2 separate regions of the Homo sapiens genome follow, and region 1 is linked to region 2. The links come from fine-mapping of genetic effects on gene expression. A gene starts in region 2. The other region holds a variant in brackets. All regions are shown on one strand. Distances are from middle to middle.

Evidence for each region.
Region 1: its variant is fine-mapped to the expression of DBNDD1 in whole blood (TOPMed, PIP above 0.99).

The regions. Positions count from the first base shown.
Region 1 is chr16:89,980,939-89,991,921 of GRCh38, forward strand. It overlaps the pseudogene AFG3L1P. Among named protein-coding and RNA genes, the nearest start is that of DBNDD1, 33 kb to the right of the region's middle. RefSeq lists a silencer at 7,438-7,612. The variant G/A (reference allele first, on the strand shown) is at 5,908.
Region 2 is chr16:90,012,775-90,023,757 of GRCh38, forward strand. It overlaps DBNDD1 (dysbindin domain containing 1), which reads right to left and starts at 6,682. Exons shown (of 4, transcript NM_001042610.3): 1 at 6,537-6,682. The coding sequence starts at 6,567. It overlaps DRC4 (dynein regulatory complex subunit 4), which reads left to right and starts at 9,906. Exons shown (of 11, transcript NM_001481.3): 1 at 9,906-9,950. The coding sequence starts at 9,948. RefSeq lists silencers at 6,801-6,940, 7,687-7,981.

The DNA.
Region 1 (10,983 bases), 32 kb before region 2:
CAACATAGTGAAACCTTGTCTCTACAAAAAAAAAAAAAAAAAAAAAAAGCCAGGCATGGTGGTGTGTACCTCTGGTCCCAGGTACTCAGGATTGCTTGAGCCCGAGAGGTTGAGGCTGCAGTAAACCATGATCGTGCGACTGCACTCCAGCCTGGGTGACCAAGTAAGACCTTGTCTCCAAAAAAAAAAAAATTAAAAAAAAATAAAAATGTGCTGAGATTTCTATCTGGATTTTATTATTATTATTATTTTTGAGATAGGGTCTCACTGTGTCATCCAGGCTGGAGTGCAGTGATACGATCACTGCTTACTGTAGCCTTGACTTCCCAGGCTCAGATGATTCTCCCACCTCAGCCTCTAGAGCAGCTGAGACCACAGGCTTGCACCACCACTCCTGGCTAATTTTTTTTTAAATTTTTTGTGGACATGGGGTCACCCACCGTTGCCCAGGCTGGTCTCGAACTCCTGGGCTCAAGCAGTCCTCTCACCTTGGCCTCCTTTAGTGCTGGGACTACAGAGCTGAGTCACCACGCCTGGCCTCTGTCTGGATTTTAACAGACCCCCATAAGAGAGAACCCTAGCAACAGTGGCTCAAACACAGCGCTCTCTGTGGACTTTCTGCTTCTCCTGAGGCATCTGCTGAGCTGCGGCTTTCAGTGTGTGTCATACACCACGTAAAGATCTTTCCTCATGAGAGGAACTGAGGCTACATTGTGTACGGTCGGTGGGGGGGGGTTGCAAAACTTTCCTAATAACATCTGAAAAAGGAAATAGCTATTTTCATAAAGAAACTACCTTCATTTAACTGGAAAATGTGTTTTCTTTTTTCCACAGGGGGGACTTCCCCTGGGATGACGAGGATTTCCGCAGTCTGGCCCTTTTGGGGGCAGGCGTTGCCATGGGATTTTTCTACCTCTATTTTCGAGATCCTGGAAGAGAAATCACGTGGAAGCACTTTGTACAGTATTACCTGGCCAGAGGTCTGGTGAGAGGAATTTATAGTTTACCTACCTGGGAAGGAGGCCGCTGTAGTGGTGCACGTGGTCTGCGATGCCCTTAAGAAGCTGTGAGCTCTGAGGCCTGGGTTGAAAACCCGTTGTGTGGTAGATGTCCTGGGCAGTCCCACCCTCAGGCCATAGATGAGACACAGGTTTACTTTTCCCAGTAGCCAGCCCAACAGAAGGTTAGGAAGCTCATTTTTTAGATGAGACACAGTTTTACTTTCCCCAACAGAAGGTTAATAAGCCCATTTTCTTGCAAGGTGGAAGCTTCCTTAACATCTTGGCTTTTTGTTTTTAGCTTCAGCTTCTGTGAGTAAGTTCTGATTGTCTGATTGTGTCTGTTTATCATCAAGTATCAATTACATACCTAATGCAGATCTTTTGTTTCCCCTAGTGTACCCGTGTCCCCTCCTGCACCCCTGTCCTTTGCTGGCTGACCCTGGACAGCGGCTGGGGCTTTGTGTCTGTGCACAGGGGCATGTGGCACCAGCAAGCCTCCGCCTGTCCTTCACTGGGCCTGGTCTGTCGGGTTGCTGAAGGCCGGTGAAGCACTGCTCAGGGTTTAGTAACCAGCAAGCCTCCGCCTGTCCTTCACTGGGCCTGGTCTGTCGGGTTGCTGAAGGCTGGTGAAGCACTGCTCAGGGTTTAGTATAAAGTTACATGAGAGCAGGTGCCGTGCTTCTCAGTTGCCCTCAGAAGGACGTTTGTTAACTGATACAGTGTTAAGATCTGAACTTCTTTCTGTAGGAAAGTCCTGTTTTCCCACCAGGGTTTGTGGCTAAGGCCTTTTTTTTTTTTTTAATTAATTAATTAATTAATTTTTTTGAGACAGGGTCTTGCTCTGTCACCCAGGCTGGAGTGCAGTGGTGTGAAGTCTTGACCTTCTGGTTCCAAGCCAGCCTCCCACCTCAGCCTTCTGAGTATCTGGGACTGTAAAAAATGTAATTTTTTTTTTCCGACATGGAGTCTCGCTGTGTCGCCCTGGCTGGAGTACAGTGGCACGATCTGTATTCACTGCAACCTCCACCTCCCTGGTTCAAGTGATTCTCCTGCCTCAGCCTCCTGAGTAGCTGGGATTACAGGTTCTGGCCACTACACCTCCATGGGAGGTGGAGGTTGCTAGTTTTTTGTATTTTAGTAGAGACAGGGTTTCACTGTATTGCCCAGGCTGGTCTCGAATTCCTGAGCTCAGGCAATCCTCCCACCTTGGCCTCCCAAAGTGCCAGGATTACAGGCGTGAGCCACTGTGCCCAGCCCGCACTTTTTTTTTTAGAGACAGTGTCTCCTTATGTTGCCCAGGCTAGTCTCAGACTCCTGGGCTCAAGTGATGCTCCCACTTTGTCCTCCTGAAGTGCTATGATTACAGTTGTGAACCACCACCCAAGGCCTTTTTGTCTGGCCACAGGGCACACACCTGTCTTCAGAGAGGTCCCTGATGACTCCTTATGGGAGGAAGGGAGAGCTGCTGCAGCCCATCTCTGCTGTTGGTCTTCACTCACAGCTGCTGCTGTGAGGAGCAAGATGCCTGCTGGTGTGTGGGTTCTGGACAGATCCCAGAGCTTCTGTGAGGTCCTCTCCAGGTATCTGACACGCTGACCGTGATGCGGTTGCGTTATGGTCAAGAGGCCCCTGTCATAAACACGTTCGTGTTGGTCACATGACCCTGAGTAGTCAAGAAAAGTAGGGTTATAGTGGTTTCAGATTCTGTGGAGAGGAGAAAGCAACGCTGTTGTCATGATACCTAAGGAAATGGCCGCACTCTCAAGTTGTGTTTTTGCTGCGCACCGGCTGTCGGGCTGTGTTCGCCGCTGGGTGGCTTCGTGGAGGCCTTTGGGGTTGCATTTTCATTCTTGGTGGCACCATTTTCTTGTGGTATCTGCAGCTGTGTGGGCGAAATGTTTCTGGATGAGTTCCGGAAGACTTTGCTGTATTGTCAGTCTGAGACCTCTATGCCTTTTAGATTTTTTTTTTCAGATGGAGTCTCACTCTGTTGCCCAGGTTGGAGTGCAGTGTACAGTCTTGGCTCATTGCCACTTCCGCCTCCCGGGGTCAAGCAGTTCTCCCTGCCTCAGCCGCTTGAGTAGCTGGGATTACCGGGACGCCCCACCACATCTGGCTAATATTTGTATTTTTAGTAGAGACAGGGATTCACCACGTTGGCCAGGCTAGTCTCGAACTCTTGGCCTCAAGTGATCCACCCTCCTCAGCCTCCCAAAGTGCCAGGATTATAGGTCTGAGCCACTGCGCCTGGCCTTCCTTTTAGATTTTTAAGTCACTCTGGAATCTTTGGTGCTCAGATGTACCAAATTGTAACTCCTCTTGAATTACATGCACAGGCCAGGCTAGAAATGTCCAAATCAGTCAGAAAACAAAACTCGGATCTGCACAGCAGAGTGGATGCAGCTTCTCAGACACCGTTGGAGTCTCGGTCTGCACTGTGGGGCTGGTCTGAGGATGAGGCCCGTGGTTTAGTGTTGAATATGATACTCATTGCTTTAGCTGTGGGCTGGTCTGAGGGTGAGGCCCCTGTTTACTGTTGAATATCATACTCACTGCTCTAGCTGTGCTGATTATTTTTCTCTTTTTCCCAGGTGGACCGGCTGGAAGTCGTGAACAAACAATCTGTGCGTGTTATTCCTGCCCCTGGGACCTCTTCTGAAGTGAGGGGTGAATTTAAGGCTGAGTATTGCAGACATAAGTTTATTTCGTGTAAAAATGTAGTTTTCTATTTTTTTCAGTAAAATACTCCCTTAGTATCCATCAGCTACTCGTTAATGTGTTTTTTTCTCATTGGCATGTATCAATAACAAAGCCTTCCAAGGAGGACAGGAGCCCTTATAAGACTGACTAGGGTTCAGATTTGCCAAGCAGTGTCTGAGAACAACTCATCAAGGATTGTGGGGAGAGAAGAGAAGGAGACAAAGATAAAAGAGTAAAAAGCCAAAAGGAATGGCTGGCCGTGGTGGCTCATGCCTGTAATCCCAGCACTTTGGGAGACAGAGGCGGACAGATCACTTGAGGCCAGGAGTTCAAGACTAGCCTGGCCAACATGGTGAAACCCCATCTCTACTAAAAATACAATAATTAGCCGGACATGGTGGCCTGTGCCTGTAATCGCAGCTACTCAGGAGGTTGAGGCATGAGAATTGCTTGAACCCGGGAGGTGGAGGTTACAGTGAGCCAAGATCATCCCACTGCACTTCAGCCCGGGTGACAGAGGGAGACTGTCTCAAAAAAAAAAAAAAAGAAAAGAAAAAGAGACAAAGGCACACCCCAGCAGTTGTTGGACATTTTACACTTCCATCTAGAACTTAAAGACTAATTTCGTGGGGCCAAAACCAGAGTCTTCTGCTGTTAGTTAGTTTCCCTTGGAGCTAGCCTCTGCACAGGCCTCACCCATGTGGAGATTAAGGCTAGGAGAAGAGGCAGTGGGAGATGCGTGTGTGAGGGTGGGGCTCAGTGTGGGACACGGCGATGCACCCTAAGCTTGCTCTTGCTCTCTGCAGAAGTTCTTGTGGTTTAACATTGGCAGCGTTGATACCTTCGAGCGGAACCTGGAGTCTGCTCAAGGGGAGCTGGGGATCGAGCCCCACAACCAGGCAGTGGTAGTCTACACCAGCGAGAGTGATGGGTGAGGAGGATGGCGAAGGGCCTCTGTGTGAACACAAAACAGAAATGCAACATTTAAGCTGTGTTGGAATTTGTTTTTCAAGCTTATTAGAGGCATCTGTAATAAGCAATGTCTGTAGTAAAAAATATATATATACTTTTATATATATATATATACTTTTATATATACATACTTTTACATATATATACTTTTATATATGTATACTTTTATATATATACTTTTATATATGTATACTTTTATATATATACTTTTATATATGTATACTTTTATATATATAATATACTTTTATATATACACTTTTATATATATACTTTTTTACATATATATATATATATATATATATATATATATACACACACACACACACCCCCACACACATATATGTATATATTTGTTTTTTACTGTTTTTTCATGAGAATTGAAGCAGGGAAATATTTGGCTAGGCAATGTTACAAAAGAAAACCAGTCGTTGGGTTATTGTTGGAGCAGAAATTCCCTGAAGTCCCATAGGAAGCCTTCCACAATTGGGCCATGCAGCAGGATCACTACGAGAGCCCTGTCAAAATGCACTTTCATCATTTCTACCTGCCACTCCTGCAGAAGTGTCGAATTAACGTCCAGAGGTGGGGCTTGAGCACCTGTGACTTCCCCAGGCTCCCTTTTGGGCAGCCCTGACCCATCCTTCCAGGTGCTGGGGGTCCCTGCACACAACCCTGTAGCTCCCATGTAGTACCTGACACTTGGTCGTTCTTTTGGTTTTTTTTGAGACAGTCTTCCGCTCTGTCGCCCAGGCTGGAGTGCAGTGGCGCAGTCTCAGCTTGCTGTAACCTCCACCTCCTGGCTTCACACCATTCTCCTGCCTCAGCCTCCCGAGTAGCCGGGACTACAGGCGCCCACCACCACGCCCGGCTAATTTTTTGTATTTTTAGTAGAGAGGGGGTTTCACTGTGTTAGCAAGGATGGTCTCGATATCCTGACCTCGTGATCCGCCCACCTCGGCCTCCCAAAGTGCTGGGATTACAGGCATGAGCCACCGCCCCCGGCCGACACTTGGTCATTCTAAGCTTCCAGTGGCTCTCATATTATCTTGGATTTCCGCTGCATCGTATGTTCTTAAAGTAATTATGAACACAAGGGCAAAGACCAGATGAAATACTCTGTGCGTCCCAGGACTCAGCACAGAAGTCAGTGTTGCTAAGCGTGGATCCTGTTTTCGTGTTTTCACTTCCTGGGTTTGTCATTGCTCTGTCTTCTGCGGCCCTTCTGCCCTGAATT[G/A]GAAACTGAACCGAGAGAGAGTACAAATCCAGTACCAGCTTTAGCCAGGAGGGTGTAAAAATTGGAATCGTAGTGGTGTGGGCGGTTTCTTTGAGACGTATGTTTAAGCACAGAGTAGGGGCTGCAGTGGGGTGAGAGAAGGTGAGGCAGGTAGAATTCTGGAGATTCTCTCTCAGATTCTAGTGGCAGGGCCCGAAGTGCCTGTGGTCTCCTGCTGGATGGAGCTCCCGGATGTCATCTGGGTGCTGTTTATTGCTGACTTGGGTTCTGTCTTTGCTTGTTGAGTTGCCAGGATGCCTGGTTGTATGTGGGGCTGAAAGTGAGTGTGGAGCCGCTGGAGGAGGGATGGCCTCGAGCCTTGGAAGAGCAAGAGCAAAGACAAAAATAAACCAGGCGGACATTTGGTGTCTTCCTGTGACAAAACAACCCAGTTGGCCCTAGATGTGAGGAGGCCTTGCTGGGTCTGCTGGCGGCACCTCCCGGGGGAGACACTGTGGTGTAAGCTCCAGCAGGGCTGCTTGGCCAGGTGGAGGAGGTGGAGGAGGTGGAGGAGGTGGAGGAGGTGGAGGAGGTGGAGGAGGTGGTGGGTGGTCACTCTCCCTGCCCCACCAAGCCAGCCACAGGTTCCATCAGGGAGATAGAAATGCCTGTGACTAGAGCCTTCAGAATTGGAGAGGCCTCGTGCTTGATGGACTTTGACACATTTAAAAGAAAGAGGCCGGGTGCGGTGGCTCACGCCTGTAATCCCAGCACTTTGGGAGGCCAAGGCGGGCGGATCATGAGGTCAGGAGACCGACACCATCCTGGCTAACATGGTGAAACCCCGTCTCTACTAAAAATACAAAAAATTAGCCGGGCGTGGTGGCGGGCGCCTGTAGTCCCAGCTACTCGGGAGGCTGAGGCAGGAGAATGGTGTGAACCTGGGAGGCGGAGCTTGCAGCGAGCCGAGATCTCGCCACTGCACTCCAGCCTGGGCGACAGAGTGAGACTCCTTCTCAAAAAAAAAAAAAAAAAGAGGCCGAGGGCCGGGCGTGATGGCTCACAGAGGTAATCCCAGTGCTTTGGGAGGCTGAGGAGGGAGGATCACCTGAGACTAGGAGTTCGAGACCAGCTGGGCAACATAGTGAGACTGCGTATCTATAAAAAGTTAAAAAATTATCTGTTGTGGTGGCATGCATGCCTGTGGTTCTAGCTACTCAGGAGGTTGAGGCAGGAGAATCTCTTGAGCCTGGGAGTTCAAGGTTACTGTGATCATGCCACTGCCCACCAGCCTGGGTGACAGTGAGACCCTCTCTCAAAAAAAGGAAAAAACCCTGCTACCTTTTGTGTAGCAACACAAAGTCCTAGAGCGGTCTCCTCTAAGAGACAGAGTTTTGCTTTGTCATCCAGGCTGGAGTGTAGTTGTGTAGTCATGGCTCACTGCAGACTTGAACTCCCAGGCACAAGCAATCCTCTTACCTCAGCCTCCTGAGGAGCTGGAACTACAGGCACACGCCACCATGCCCAACTAATTTTTGTATTTTTACTAGAGACAGGGTTTCACCAGGTTGTTTAGGCTGGTCTCGAACTCCTTACCTCAGGTGATCCACCTGCCTTGGCCTCCCATAGTGCTGGGATTACAGGTGTGAGCCGCCACACCCGGTCATTTTTATAAATTTTTTTAGAGACGGAGTCTTGCCACGTTGCCCAGGCTGGTCTTGAACTTCTGGGCTCAAGAGATCCTCTCACCGTGGCTTCCCAAAGTGCTGGGATTACAGACGTGACTCACCGTGCCTGGCATGAAGGTGCTATTTCTGACCTCCTGAGTGTGACAAGTAGTTCTCTTGGATTTTCCAGCTCTTTCTTGTGAAGTCTGGTGCCCACCCTTCTCCTGGTTGGCATTCTCGTCTATGCTGCCAGGAGGGGCCTTATGGGATCCAGGCGCAGTAGACGAGGAGGGGGCCTCTTCGGTGTTGGTGAGACAGCAGCCAAGATCTTAAAAAGCAACATCGATGTGTTATTTGCAGACGTAGCTGGGTGCGAAGAATCAAATTGGAAATTATGGAATTTGTGAATTTCCTGAAGAATCCCAAGCAGTATCAGGACTTAGGAGCAAAAATTCCAAAGGTATTGATTTTGGAAAACATAGTAATACTCTGAGCTCCACATAGATGGCTGTGGGTCAGAGTCGGTTCTTACTCCTGTTTTATTAATTTAATATTAATTACATAGAACAACAGGTACAACTTGTATGAACAGGCTTGGGATCAGATGTAGTTGCCTCTTGGTAAGCCCGTGACCCAGCCAGCGGCTAGGTGTGTGCAGCCAGACGGCGGCTACGTGTGTGCGGGCAGTCAGCCAGCGCGTTGCAGGTGGTGTGGGTCAGGGTGCTGGATCTGGCTGCTGGGCACACAGAGCAAGTTTATCTCTTCGTGCCATTTTGGGGTCATGACTCTTTGGGGGCCTGAGAGAAGCCATGGATTTTTTTTCCCAGAAATATTTGCATTCACAGAAACTCGATTCACACACCCTTTTAACTCACCTCTGGGCTTTGGACCAGGCTGACATCCAGATCCTTGCAGTGGCCTTGCACCCCCACCCCCCAGCACCTCCCGATGGGGTGGGCATTCACTGGGCAGTTTGTTCCAAACAACAAATAATGATTATACCAAGCACCGGGAACCTGGGGCGGAGCCAGAAGGTGACAGACCTGTTTTCCACTTTGATGAGCATGAGGCTGGGAAGCAGGTGTGTGTGACAGATGTGCAGAGCCTGGGGCCTTCTGCTCCTGTTGGAGCTCCACTGGCAGCTGCCATTCACCTCAGCTCATAGTCAGGTGCTGCAGTGGGTGGTTCTCTTTGCCTTTCAGAATTTTTTTTTTTTTTTTTTTTTGAGACGGAGTCTCGCTCTGTGGCCCAGGCGGGAGTGCAGTGGCGCAATCTCGGCTCACTGCAACCTCCACCTCCCGGGTTCACGCCATTCTCCTGCCTCAGCCTCCCGAGTAGCTGGGACTACAGGCGCCCACCATCACGCCCGGCTAATTTTTTTTGTATTTTTAGTAGAGACGGGGTTTCACCGTGTTAGCCAGGATGGTCTCGATCTCCTGACCTCGTGATCCGCCCGCCTCGGCCTCCCAAAGTGCTGGGATTACAAGCGTGAGCCACCGCGCCCGGCCTTTTTTTTTTTGGAGACAGAGTCTTGCTCTGTTGCCCAGGCTGGAGTGCAGTGGTGCGATCTTGGTTCACTGCAACCTCCACCTCCCGGGTTCAAGCTATTCTCCTGCCTCAGCCTCCTGAGAAGCTGGAATTAACAGTTGTGTATCACCACGCCCAGCTAATTTTTGTAATTTTAGTAGAGACAGGATTTCACCATGTTGGCCAGGCTGGTCTCAAACTCCTGACTTCAGGTGATCCACCTGCCTTAGCCTCCCAAAGTGCTGAGATTACAGGTGTGAGCGATCGCATCCTTTTTTTTTTTTTAATTTATATCTATTGCTGCTGAACAAATTACAGTTTTTTTTTCATATGCATGTATTTGCTGGGGAAAATCTGTATGATGGAGTGGGTGAGGCAGTCAGGTACCAAGAAAGGCCCCTCACGTGGTGTGTTGGTCCCCCTTTCCCAGCAGGCAGGGGCTCCTGCGAGAGGGGGCTCTGTCAGCTTCTGTGTTACATCACAGGCCTCGTGCTCTGCTGTGGATGTCAGGAAAGAGTTAGTGGGGTCAGGGCCCATCTAGGTTTCCCGTTCTTGGGTATGAGGTACAGTGATTTCCCAGAATTACCTCTGCCTGTGGCATCCCCCATGAGAATCCATCATGAAGAGCTGGCTGTGTGTGCGGCCATGGTGGGTGCCTCTCCTGGAGCACATGGGTAGGACGGAGTGTGCTGTGGGCAAGTCTGGCCCCCTCCTGCCCTGCAGCTCCTTAGCCATCCCTAATGGGATTCTTCTTAGTCAATCTCAGAAGTCACCAGTTTAAGCAGCTCTCTCACCTGTGTATCATCTGCTCCCCTGTTAAGAGCCCGATGTCACCATTCTGTTTCAGGGAGCCATGCTCACTGGTCCTCCTGGTACCGGCAAGACCCTTCTTGCCAAAGCAACTGCAGGGGAGGCCACTGTGCCCTTCATCACTGTGAACGGGTCTGAGTTCCTGGAAATGTTTATTGGCGTTGGGCCAGCAAGGGTAGGTGGATGGGAACCTGCTGCAGGTGGCCTCAGCACCGTGCCTTGACCAGGACTGGTCAACTTGAATAGCTTAGTGTGGGGCCCTGGGCATGGGCATGTGTGGGAGGTGCTGGTGCACTGAGGCAAAATGGGTCAGAGGTTTCCAAGGAGAGGGTGGAGGATAACTGGCGTTCCCGTCTTCCTACCAGTAGCAAAACCGATTCTGGGTGGGTTCCTGTTTCAGGTTCATGACATGTTTGCAATGGCCCGAAAAAAACGCTCCATGTATCTTATTCATTGATGAGATTGATGCGATTGGCAGGAAGCGAGGCCAAGGGCACTTTGGAGGCCAGAGTGAGCAGGAGAACACCCTGAACCAGATGCTCGTGGAGATGGACAGTGTGTGCAGCTGTTCCCCTGCAGCTGCTTAGGAATAGTCTGCACAGCCTTTTTCTGTACAGTCACCCCCAGAAGAGAATCCCTGATTATTCTGTTTTTAAGGAAGGGTTCTCTCAGGCAAACGTACTGGAGAAAGCTGTGTTAGATTCACAAGCCTCCTCCAGTGCATTCCCCTGCCCCCAGATGGAGAGGAGTTCTCTGGAGTGTGGAGACACCTGCTTCTCTGGGGAGGGGGACCAGGTAGCCGAGCATGGCTGCTCCTGACGGTGCCCACAGGGTGGTGTGTGCACAACCCATGCTCCTTCCACTCTGAGCCTTGTCTTGCTGCCCCTGCATCACCCAGAATCTCACAGACTCCCCAGGCCTGCCTCCTCTCAGAGTGATTGTAGCTAAGATGTGACTGATCGTTGTCTGTCAGTCCTGCTAAAGCCTCATTGGACACGTCCAGGCTTCTGTGCCAGCTTTCAGATTTGGACAAACTTTCACTTAGACCTTTGGCAGATGTGATTTTCACTTTGGCTTTAGGGCCGTGTTGGGG
Region 2 (10,983 bases):
CAAGGTCTCACTGTTGCCCAGGCTGGAGTGCAGTGGTAAAACCATAGCTCACTGCAGCCTCAACCTCTTGGGCTCAAGCGATCCTCCCACTTCAGCCTCCTGAGTAGCTGGGACCACCACTCCTGGCTAATTAAAATTTTTTTGGTAGAGACAGGGTCTTGCCATGTTGCCCAGGCTGGTCTCGAACTCCTGGGTTCAAGCGATCATACACCCTGGCCTCCCACCCCCTCCTCTCTGGCAGCCCCCTAATATCAAGGAAACCTGGGGCCAGAGTAGTTCTGCAGAGAATCTCTGGGGACAGCACCCTCAGAGGCAGGTGGGGCAGGTGGTTCTGTGTTAATAATGACAGCTAGGTGTGGTGGTGCACACCTGTGTGGCAGCTACTCGGGAAGCTGAGGCAGGAGGTCCGCCTGAAACCCAGGAAGTCAAGAATGCAGTGAGCTGTGATCGTGCCATCCAGCTTGAGCAACAGAGCGAAACCTTGCCTTAAAAAAAAAAAAAAAAAAAAAGACAGTGGCTTATGGTTTTCTAGTACAGTCCCAGCATTCTGTGTTTATTGACTAACTCCATTCTCACCTCACCCTAACTCCCAGCTACATGGGGAAGACTCTGAGCTTTGTACTTGAGAGGAGGAAGCTGAGGCACAGAGCAGCTCAGCGTCTGTCCCCAGCATGCAGCACAGGGCTGGCCAGGGACGCAGCTGGAGCTCTCAGCCATCACCTGTCAGCCTGTTCCTGATCATGGCGTGGAGATGGGAACCAGGGATCCCGGTTCAGGGCCCAGCAGAGGGAGCAGGAAGTCCCCACTTGCTGGCTTAGGTTCCCTGGGTCCTGACCTGGGGGGACGTGGATCTCTGAAGGAAGGTGGGACAGAGGTGGCGTCTCCCCTTGTAGTCCCCCTCTCACTGGGCGGGGCCCCTCATCTAGACGAAGGCTCTGATTCATTCATTCACCCAACCAAGACTTCCGAATCACCCTCTGTTCTGGGGACATGGCATAGACAAAATAGATGATTCCTGCCCTTCTGAGGGACGGCCAGTGCCAGTGAGCAGTGCGGGGCTGTGCTCCCATTTTAGGGGGCATCTGGGGAGGGTGCTCTACCAAACTTGGAGGAGGAGCCTGGAGGTGGGAGGGAGCCGTGTGATACTGGGTGGGGCGGGGGGGGACATGCATAAAGGCCTGAGCAGAGTGCATTTGAGGACAGCTGGGGGCTGTGAGGCAGGGCAGGGGTGGTGTGTGCAGGTCGTGTGGAGATCGTCAGGACTTTGGTTTCTATACTGAGTAAGCTGAGAGAAGCCGTTGAAGGGTTTTGAATGGAGTGGGACAGCATCTACCTGAATTTTTAAATTATTATTATTATTATTTTTTTTTTGAGATGGAGTCTCGCTCTGTCACCAGGCTGGAGGGCAATGGCGCGATCTCTGCTCACTGCAAACTCCACCTCCTGGGTTCAAGGGATCCTCTTGCCTCAGCCTCCCAAGTAGCTGGGATTACAGGCGTGCGCCACCATGCCTGGCTAATTTTTGTATCTTTAGTAGAGATGGGGTTTCTCCCTGTTGGCCAGGCTGGTCTTGAACTCCTGACCTCATGATCCGCCCGCCTTGGCCTCCCAAAGTGCTGGGATTATAGGTGTGAGCCACCGTGCCGGGCCAATACCTGCATTTTTACGACGAGGCCAGCAAGGGCACAGTCCAGAGGGAGGTAAGTCTGCAGGCACCCTCTGCTTGTGCTGAGATGGAGGTCCCAAGCAGGACCTCAGCCAAACAGCAATCCCCTTCCCCATCTTGCACTGGAGAGGGGGCATGCGAATGCCAGCAGTCCTCATTATAGATCCTGGGGTCCCAAGGGGCTACAGACAGCTTCTGGGACAAAGCTCTAGCCCTGTGGAAGCTTCACAGCAGCCCTGTGTGGAATGAATATCATAGTTGACTCTTAAGAAGTATCCTTTCGGCCGGGCGCGGTGGCTCACGCCTGTAATCCCAGCACTTTGGGAGGCCAAGGCGGGCGGATCACTTGAGGCCAGGAGTTCGAGACCAGTCTGGGCCAACATGGCGAAACCCCGTCTCTACTAAAAATACAAAAATTAGCCGGTGTGGTGGTACGTGCCTGTAGTCCCAGCTACTCAGGAGGCTGAGGCAGGAGACTCGCTTGAACCTAGGAGGTGGAGTTTGCAGTGAGCAGAGATCATGCCACTGCACTCCAGCCTGGGCGACAGAACGAGACTCTTGTTTCAAAAAAAAAAAAAAAAGCATCTTTTCTTATTTCCACATTCTTGAGACAGCAACACATCTGTAGCTGATGGTGTCAGCGTTGATGAGATCCAGTCCTGTAAGCATTTGAAGCCACCAGGTGTCTAGTCTGGTCCTTCCCCATCTCCCTTTGGCCTGGTCTTTATTCTGTAAAGTCTGGTGCCGTGGTCTGTGTTGGGGCTTTGGGGAAGGAAAATTTGGAAGATGCAGCTTCTGCCATCAGGACACGAATTTTTTGGCCAGAAGAATGTGATACCAGGGACAAGACCTGAGCCCCCAGGAGGGGCACGATGGATCTTGGCATGAAGAGCGTGCAGCTGCTATAAGGCATGCTCGTGGGTCCTCAAATGACTGAGCCTACTGTGTAATACATGCAGCATACAGATATGTGTTCGTTGACCATATCAGTAAAGTTCTGGTCAACAGTAGGCTATTAGCAGTTAAGTTTTTGGGGAGTGAAAAGTTCTATGTGGATTTCTGACTTTGAGGGAGGTGGGCACCCCTAACACTTAACGTTGTTCAAGAGTCAGCTGCACATGCATGTTCATAGCGTGATTCACAGTAGCCAAAAGTGGAAATAATCCAATGTCCTCAGTGGATCAATGGATAAACAGAATGTGGTCTGTGCCTACCATGGAGTGAGATTCAACCCAAGAAGGACGGCGGTACTGACACCGGATATCACATGCATGAGCCTGATCACCTCATTCGAGTGAAGGAAGCCAGGCCCAAAAGGACAAATGCTGTGTGACGCCGTTCCTAGGAAATGTCCAGAATAGGCAAGCGCGTAGACATTCCATCAGTGATCGTCAGAGGCTGGGGGGTGGGCAGTGGAGAAGGGGAGAACGGGTATGGGTTTCTTTCTGGGGGGGTAATGAAGATATTATAAAATTAGATAGTGGTGGTGACTGCACAATTTTGTGAATATACTGAAACAGTGAGTTGTACACTTTAAAAGGGTGAACTTTATATGTGAATAATATCTCAATTTAAAAACAATCCTCAATGGAAACAAAGGTTGATCTTGGCTGGAACTGATAGGCAAAGCCGGGAGGAAATGACAGAGACTCACATACACTGTGAGTCGGCCACACGCCAGACCCCCAGGCACAGCCCCAGAGCAGGCTGGGACTGGGTAGAGCGAGAAGCATCAGCTCTAAGCGGCTTGTATCTAGTTCATGGCTGCATTCCTGGGACCTAGCGCACAGTAGGTGCGCAGTAAACAAATGAGGGTGAATCAACTAGCCCACGGTTAGTGAGGGACTGCGCTAGGAATCACCCAGGCCTGTCTGACACCCTCTCAACAAGCTTGTAGGAAGAAGAAAATTCCTCACGGGCGAGACCTGCTGCTTTTCCCAGGGTGGGAACCAGAGGCTCAATGCCAGGCAGGCATGGGGGCGGGTGCTGGCAGCCCCCAAGGTCTCCAGGGCCAGGGCAGAGGCAAGCAGGTGTTTCTGATGTCCCAGGAAGGACCCCAGAGTGTGGGGACACAGCAATGTTCTGGTCCTTACCCCAGCACAGCCCCTATCAAGGGGGACCCAACCCCCCTGCAGGGGCTGCTGGTGCCCTCGCTGATGAGTGGGCACTGAAGGAGCACCTCAGCGAGGGAGCCAGGAGTTGGGGTGCCTCAGCCCGGCCCCCCAGGCTTCCCTGAGGGCTGATTGCTGATGCCCTGTGCTCTGCTGCTGACCTATTTTCCAGCACATTCTCGACTGGGAAACTTGGCCCAAATCCTGTTCCCTGTTGTGTGCCCAGGGCCCCGTCCAGAGCATCGAGGAGGCACTTGGCACACACCACTGTATGGACGGATGAGCTAATGAAGTGAATGAATGAATATCATAAAACTAAATGGCTGGAAGGAGAGATGGTCGCAGAGGCAGGGGCCACCTGCCCCCCATCCCCCAGCACCTTCCTCTCTGGATTTGGACCCCCAAAGTATTTCAGGGATGCTGGAGTGGCCGTGTCTAGACTCTCAGCCTCCTGAGGATCCCTCTGTCCCTGTGGACCCTTGGGCAGACTGAGTTGGGGTGGGTTACAGCCCTGGCTTCCAGGTGGGGCCCTCAGAGAGGGCACAGGTCACATTCCTGTGCACACGTGCACCTCCGTGTTCTGTACATTTCATATTAAGAAATCATTAATTCCTTTAGTTGCAAAAATAGTGTTTTAATAATGCTTTATAAAAATCCTATTTTGCCGGGCATGGTGGCTGACGCCTGTAATCCCAGCACTTTGGGAGGCCGAGGCGGGTGGGTCATGAGGTCAGGAGATCGAGATCATCCTGGCTAACACAGTGAAACCCCGTCTCTACTAAAAGTACAAAAAATCAGCCAGGTGTGGTGGCGGGCGCCTGTAGTCCCAGCCACTGGGGAGGCTGAGGCAGGAGAATGGCGTGAACCCGGGAGGTGGAGGTTGCAGTGAGCCGAGATCGCGCCACTGCACTCCGGCCTGGGCAACAGAGCGAGACTCCGTCTCAAAAAAAAAAAAAATCATATTTTACAGATATTTCTGAATTATTTATCAGTGAAATAATATGTCTAGATTTGGTTCAAACCACTAATGAAGGGAGGTTGGTGGTAGTCTGGAGAGGAGGCTGTGGGCCTGGGGGCTGGGATGTCACACATGGGCCTTTGTCCCGCCGTTCTCTCTACTTTTGTAAGGTTTTCAAAAGTAAGTGATAAGTAATGACAGAGTCACCAATGTGTGATCTCATGAGGTTCCACAAAGTAGGCATCACTGGCCACTTTGCAGACAAGGAAACAGGAGTTGGTGTCAAGAGCGTGAGCCCTCAGAGGACAGGGCCCTGTCTTCCCACTAACTCCCCACCCCAGGCAGGGTACTGCACAGAGCTGCGACCTGTAGGTAAATACCTGTGCACTGATTGAGTCAGGTGTCTGAAGCCCCCAGCCAGTGACTGATGGGCTCAGAAACTGAACCTGCTTTCTCTGCCTTTTAAGCTGCTGGGAAGTCCTCCTTTTTTCCCAAAGGAGGAGGGAAAACATATTAACCTCCACTCCCAAATGCCTTGGGCTCCCACAGCCCTGCAGGGGAAGCAGAACTGTCTCCACTGACAGAAATGGAAATTGAGGCTCACAGGGGCCTGACTGCCCACAGTTCACAGCTGGAAACAGCTCGGAGACCCCCAAGCCCTCACTCCCAACCTCCAGGCTTCCTATGTCCACAAAGCTGCTACTGGGAATACCCAGGAGCCTGGGACTATCAGTGTTAAGAAAGAGCTCTGGTCCCTCCCACAAATGACAAATCAAAACCCAAACCCACCAGCCCTGGGGCATTTGTCCCTATACCTTGGACTGCAGATACACAGGGTGGGTGGACCTGCTCCTCCCGGGGACAGCCCTTCGGGCTCCAGAGGATGCCACTGTGTGCGGCTGGGGGACTGAGAGGTTCCCATGTAGTTCCAGAGCGGCAGGCTGGCCTGCCTGTGCCCTCAGGCACCTGCTGGCTCCCTGGAATGGGAGCTCTAGGAAACCAGGAGGTGGTGGGCTTGGCTGGGCAGGTGGAGGAGTCTGCAGTTTGCATCCAAGTTCCTACCTAGGCAAATGGAACCCCGAAAGCCCTTTTGGAAAAGTCTCTGATCGGGAAGGGGGGAGGTTCTGAGAGCTTTCTTCCCGTTACCGACTCCAAGGTCCTGCAGTAGGGCCTCCACCATCAGGGCAGGGAGCGCTCCACGCGCACCTACCCTCCCCGATGAGCGTGCGCCTGGGCCACTCCCGGACCAGCCACCCTTGCAGCTCTGGAGTCCCCGGCAGGCCGCGCCCGTGCATGCCCCACATCCCCAAGACCCATCTCAGCCCCTCGCCCCTGGCAGGATCCCTGCCCGCGAGTCTACGGCCCTCGCCCCCCGGGACTCGCGGCTGGGCGAACAAAGCGGACGCGCTTGCAAGCGGCCAGCGTCGCCCTCACGCCCCACCGACAGGGACCCCAAACTCCAGCCCCGGAACCCCCCTCCCCCGCTCCCCGGGTCACCGGCTGGCTTGGCTGGGAGGGGGCTCAGGACGAAACTCCGGGCCACCCACCAAGGAGCGTGCCGGGCACGGCTTCCCGGGCCGGGAGCGCAGAGAACAAGGGGGCGGAGACTCGGTCCGTGTGCCCCCAGCCCCGCGCGGGGACCGCGCCCGGGAGGTGCCCCTGGCCCGCCGGACGACCCCGAGCTGCCAAAGGGGTCTTCGCGACTCCCGGGAGCGGCGAAGGGTGAGCCCTGGGGGGAGGGGCTGCGGCTCGCTGCGGGGAAGCGCTGCGCGGGGGTCTCGGGGGCTGGGGCTGAACTCACCTCCGGTGCCGGCGCCCTCCGGGGGCTCCATGCGGCCGGTGCGGTCTGGGAGGGGCACGGGCGACGGCGGCGTCGCCTGGCCCGGGCGCCCCAACAGCTGCGGCAGCGACTCGGCCCCGGCTCCGGGCGCAGCGCATCGGGGCAGCAACCGGGGGGCCGCGGCGGCAGGGAGGAGCCCGCGGGGCGGGGCGGGGCGCGCAGCTGCTCCCGGGCCCCGGCCCCCTCCCGGCGCCCCCCCAGCCGCAGGACAGGTGCGGCCCCGCCCCGGCCCGCGCGCGCCCCCTGCTGGCCCCTGGCCCAGCGGACCCCTCCCCCGCCGACCCTTCCCTCGCGGGCCGCGCCCCGCCGCGGACACCACCGGGACCTGGCTGCGCCCTCCCGACCCCGGCCGGGCGTCCGGGGCTCCTGCGCACTCACTTGGCGGCCGCGCCCGCTGGCGTCCTCTTGTTCTCTTCCAGGTACTTGCGTGTGGGGCGCCGACTGTGTGCGGGCGCCCCTCGGGGCTGGCGAGGGGCACAGGAGGGGCCTGACTCGCGCTGGGTAATGACAGACTCACAGAGCGCCCTGGATGGCGCGAATTAACGCGGGGGGCGGGTGGGGGCGAGGGCGTGTGCTTGGGAGGCTGGAAGGGGCGGGATGGGGGATGGGAGGTAAGGAGAGGGCGGCGGGCCCGGGCTGCAGAGAGCGCCAAGGCAGTTTCGATGAAACTGACCCCCATGTCCCTATCGCCCAGATTCAGCGATTGCCAGCTCCTGGCCTGGGCCACTGCTTCTCTGTCCTCATTCACTTCCCTCCACTGCTGGGTCATTTTGAAGCAAATTATATACACATTAGATCATTGCATTTGTAAGTACTTCAATATTTATCTCTCAAAGAAAGTCCGTTTGCAGGAGCATTGACTCATGCCTGTAATCCCAGCCCTTTGGGAGGCTGAGGTGGGAGCACAGCTTGAGCTCAGGAGTCCAAGGCTGCCGTGAGCTATGATTGTATGTCTCAAAAAAAAAAAAGAAAAGAAAAGAAAAGAAAAAGTCTAGTCTTCATAAACACTCTTGTTAACCCAGCATCCAGGCCTTCACTGAGTTGATGCCGTGGCCTGAGGCGGTTTACCTGGTGGATAGTGGGTGGCAGGAAGCATCAGACATCAGACAGAGGGCAGTCGGTTTGTTTGTATTAACATTTGCTCTGGGATTTTGCAGGAAACTCAGATGCCATTTATCTGGGTTTCTGAGCTGCACAGCTTGACACTGAATGAAAGTATCTTAAGCCACATATGTGAAGAAAAGGCTCTTTTCTAAAAATCTGAACTCGAATTCAATATGAAAAGAACAGGTCGCAGTGGGCCCTGTCGGGATCCCAGGGAGCCGCAATTCAGGGCTCCCTGAATGATTCATCTCTGCAGCCCACACCGACAGACCAGGATTGCTCTTAGCTTGTGAAAAATGAGTACCCTGTCTAGGCTATCCTGAGCTAACCCTCCTATTCTTGCCCTTTTTGCTGAAAGGAATTATTGTTAATACAGCTATTTAATTCAGGACACTCATCCAGACTTCTGAAGCAAAAAGCCAATCAGCATGAAGCTGCTAGCATATTGGTTTTGTGAAGTAAGTGTTAAATTATAATAATTACCCCCACTGTGCTCTCCAGCGTCACTGTCTGACCACCCTGTCCCAGGGGGAGGAGGCCCCTCTCAGGCCAAGGGAGTCTGGCACAGTGATGCTGGCTCCTGGTTGCCCAGGCACAGTGACCAGCCAGACTTCACAGAGGCCTCAGGGCTTACTATAAATAAATCACTGCTTTGTGCAAGCTGAGCCAATGCAGTTCTTCCAACTGGCTGCTCCTCTCCAAGAACAATCAGGACTTAGGTGGGCAAACAGGAAGTCTCTCATCACAGTGGTTCTCAGATTCCCACCACTGTGTGGGTGCCTGAGGCCTGAGCAAACCCAGCTCATGTGGCAACTTCCTCCCCCAGCTGGACAGGAAGACCTAGGTCCACCAGGCCTTCTTTCATTTCTCACACTTTGCCCCCAGCACAACTTTCTACGAGCATGGATTCTGTACTCTTCATCCCCAGACACATGGGAGAACAAGATCTGCTACAAGACCTTTTCTTTTTTTTTTTGAGACAGGGTCTCAGGTCTCATTCTGTTACCTAGGCTGGAGTGAAGTGGTGTGATCTTGGCTCACTGCAACCTCCACCTCCAGGGCTCAAACGATTCTCCCACCTCAACCTCCCAAGTAGATGACCACTTTTTAAGAAGATGTTAAAGATGAGAGCTTAGGGCTGGGCGTGGGGCTCACGTGCTCCCAGCACTTTGGGAGGCCGAGGCAGGAGGATCACTTGAGGCCAGGAGTTTGAGACCACTCTGGGCAATAAAGCAAGACCCCGTCTCTATTAAAAACTTAAAAAAAAAAGCTGGGTATGGTGTCTCACACCTGTAGTCCTGGCTTCTCAGGAGGCTGAGGTGGGAGGATTGCTTGAGCCCAGGAGGTCGAGGCTGCAGTGAGTTGTGATCACAGCCTAGGCGACAGAAGGAGACCCTGTCTCCAAAAAAAAAAAAAAAAAAAAGCACCTGTTTATGACAAACTCAGCTTTCTGGGTGACATAGATGGTTGTATGTAGGTAACAGGGTGGTTTCACGGATGGCAGATTCATTTTAGAAATTGTAAAATGGCTAGCAGTTTTCAGAACAAGAGATTAGTTAGAAAAGGAAAGTGGCAGCTGTTTGTTTTCTGCAGGGCCTGTCGGGAAGCCTCTGGTTTCTTTTCATCCGTGAGGAGTGGGGAGGAGGCCTCTTCAGGAAGAGCAGTTTATTTTTGTGAAAGGAATACTTACTGATTTCAAACATTTGGAACTAAACTGGAACGTATTTTTCTTTCCGATTTCTGCGTTTTTGAGGTGTGTGTAAACCCACCAGCGCAGCAGCTGGGAGGGCCCTTCAAAGGTGGGCGGGTGGGGTGAGTGAGGCCCAGGGGATAGAGTGTTTGCCCAGATTTGAATCTCATTTGGGGAAAGTTTCAGAGGCTTGGGTGGCTGATTGATCATTCCTTCAATGGTCCTTCATCAGCACGTCTTTACTGAGCACGTGCTGTGTGCTGTTCTAGGCGCTGAAGGATAGAAGTGAAGGGTTCCCCCCTCGTGGAGCTTAGGTTCCAGCAATAAGCAAAACATGCCCTGCAGCGAAAGGCTTCTGGGCTGCCGGCGACATTTTCCCAACGTTCACAACCGGGTTCCTTCCGGACGCCCGTCTCTAGGGACGCACTCCCGCCTTTGGCAGGGCCGCTGCCCGGCGGAGTCTCGCGAGGATCTTGTGACTTATCGCGGCATCGCCCAGCGGTTGCCGGGAAACGGCGTGGCTTCCGGGGGCGGGCGCCCTGGTCCCGGAGTCGCCGCTGGGCCTGTCCGCTGGCGTCATGGTGAGCAGGGGCGGGAGCGGGGCTGGGGTCCTCGGCAGGGGCCCGGAGACCTCGGGGCAGGGAGGCCTCGGTACACGGAGACCCTGGGAATGGGAGGCCTGGAGCGCTGGGTTTCTGGAATTGAGAGCTCGGTGCTCTTGTGGGGGTCTCCGTGGGGCAAACTCAGGATGCTCCCGGCCCCGGGGCCTGGCAGCACTCGGGACTGAGACCTGGGCTGTCCAGAGCCCTGTGCTCACAGGGGTGGTCATAGAACGCCCAGGGCCCGGGGTCGGCGGCGCACGGTCCCCAGAAGAGTGAACATGCGTCAAGGGGACTCTCATCCTGGAATGGCAGACTCGGTCTGTTGGATCCCTGGGACCTAGGGTTTCAGCTCACGAGGCTTTGCAGAGCACCAGGGTCCCCATGGAATAGAGCCGGAGGCAGGAATTACCCTAAGACCTTTGGTCTCCCGGATGGAGAGCCTGGGGCACACCAGAGTGGCTAGAGATCCCTCTACACCAAGGAGGCCCGGACAGGTCCAGTGCCCTTGGAGTGCCCAGGGCACAACCTTGGGATACAGGAACCACTGTTCCCTTGGAAAGCCTGGCAGGAGTCAGGCCCAGACCGAGAAGAGGAAGGCGGAGCTCGTGGCCTCATCAGCTCCATGTCTGTCTTTCTCTTGTAAAGGGCTCTCCCTTTGTGGTACAGGAATTGTCAGTAACTCAATTTCTGGGCAGGTGTGGCAGGGTGGGTTTCAGCTGGTGGGGGGAGGAAAGCTCTGGGAGCCCCACCAAGTCCCTGCAGCTGGCTGTGAAGGTCCCAAATGCTAAGTAATGCTGAACCTTCCTCCACTGCCTTCAGGGCTTTGTGATGAGGTAGCCTTCTTGGAGTGGAGGGATTAAAAAGAGAGCAGTACATTACGAATTAAATTTAAGTAGATGGGTTTTCTGACCCAGGAAGGGTCTTCTGAAAACCGACTATGAAAGAAACTACCAAACTAGGCCAGGAGTCTGGGCGCGGTGGCTCACGCCTGTAATCCCATCACTTTGGGAGG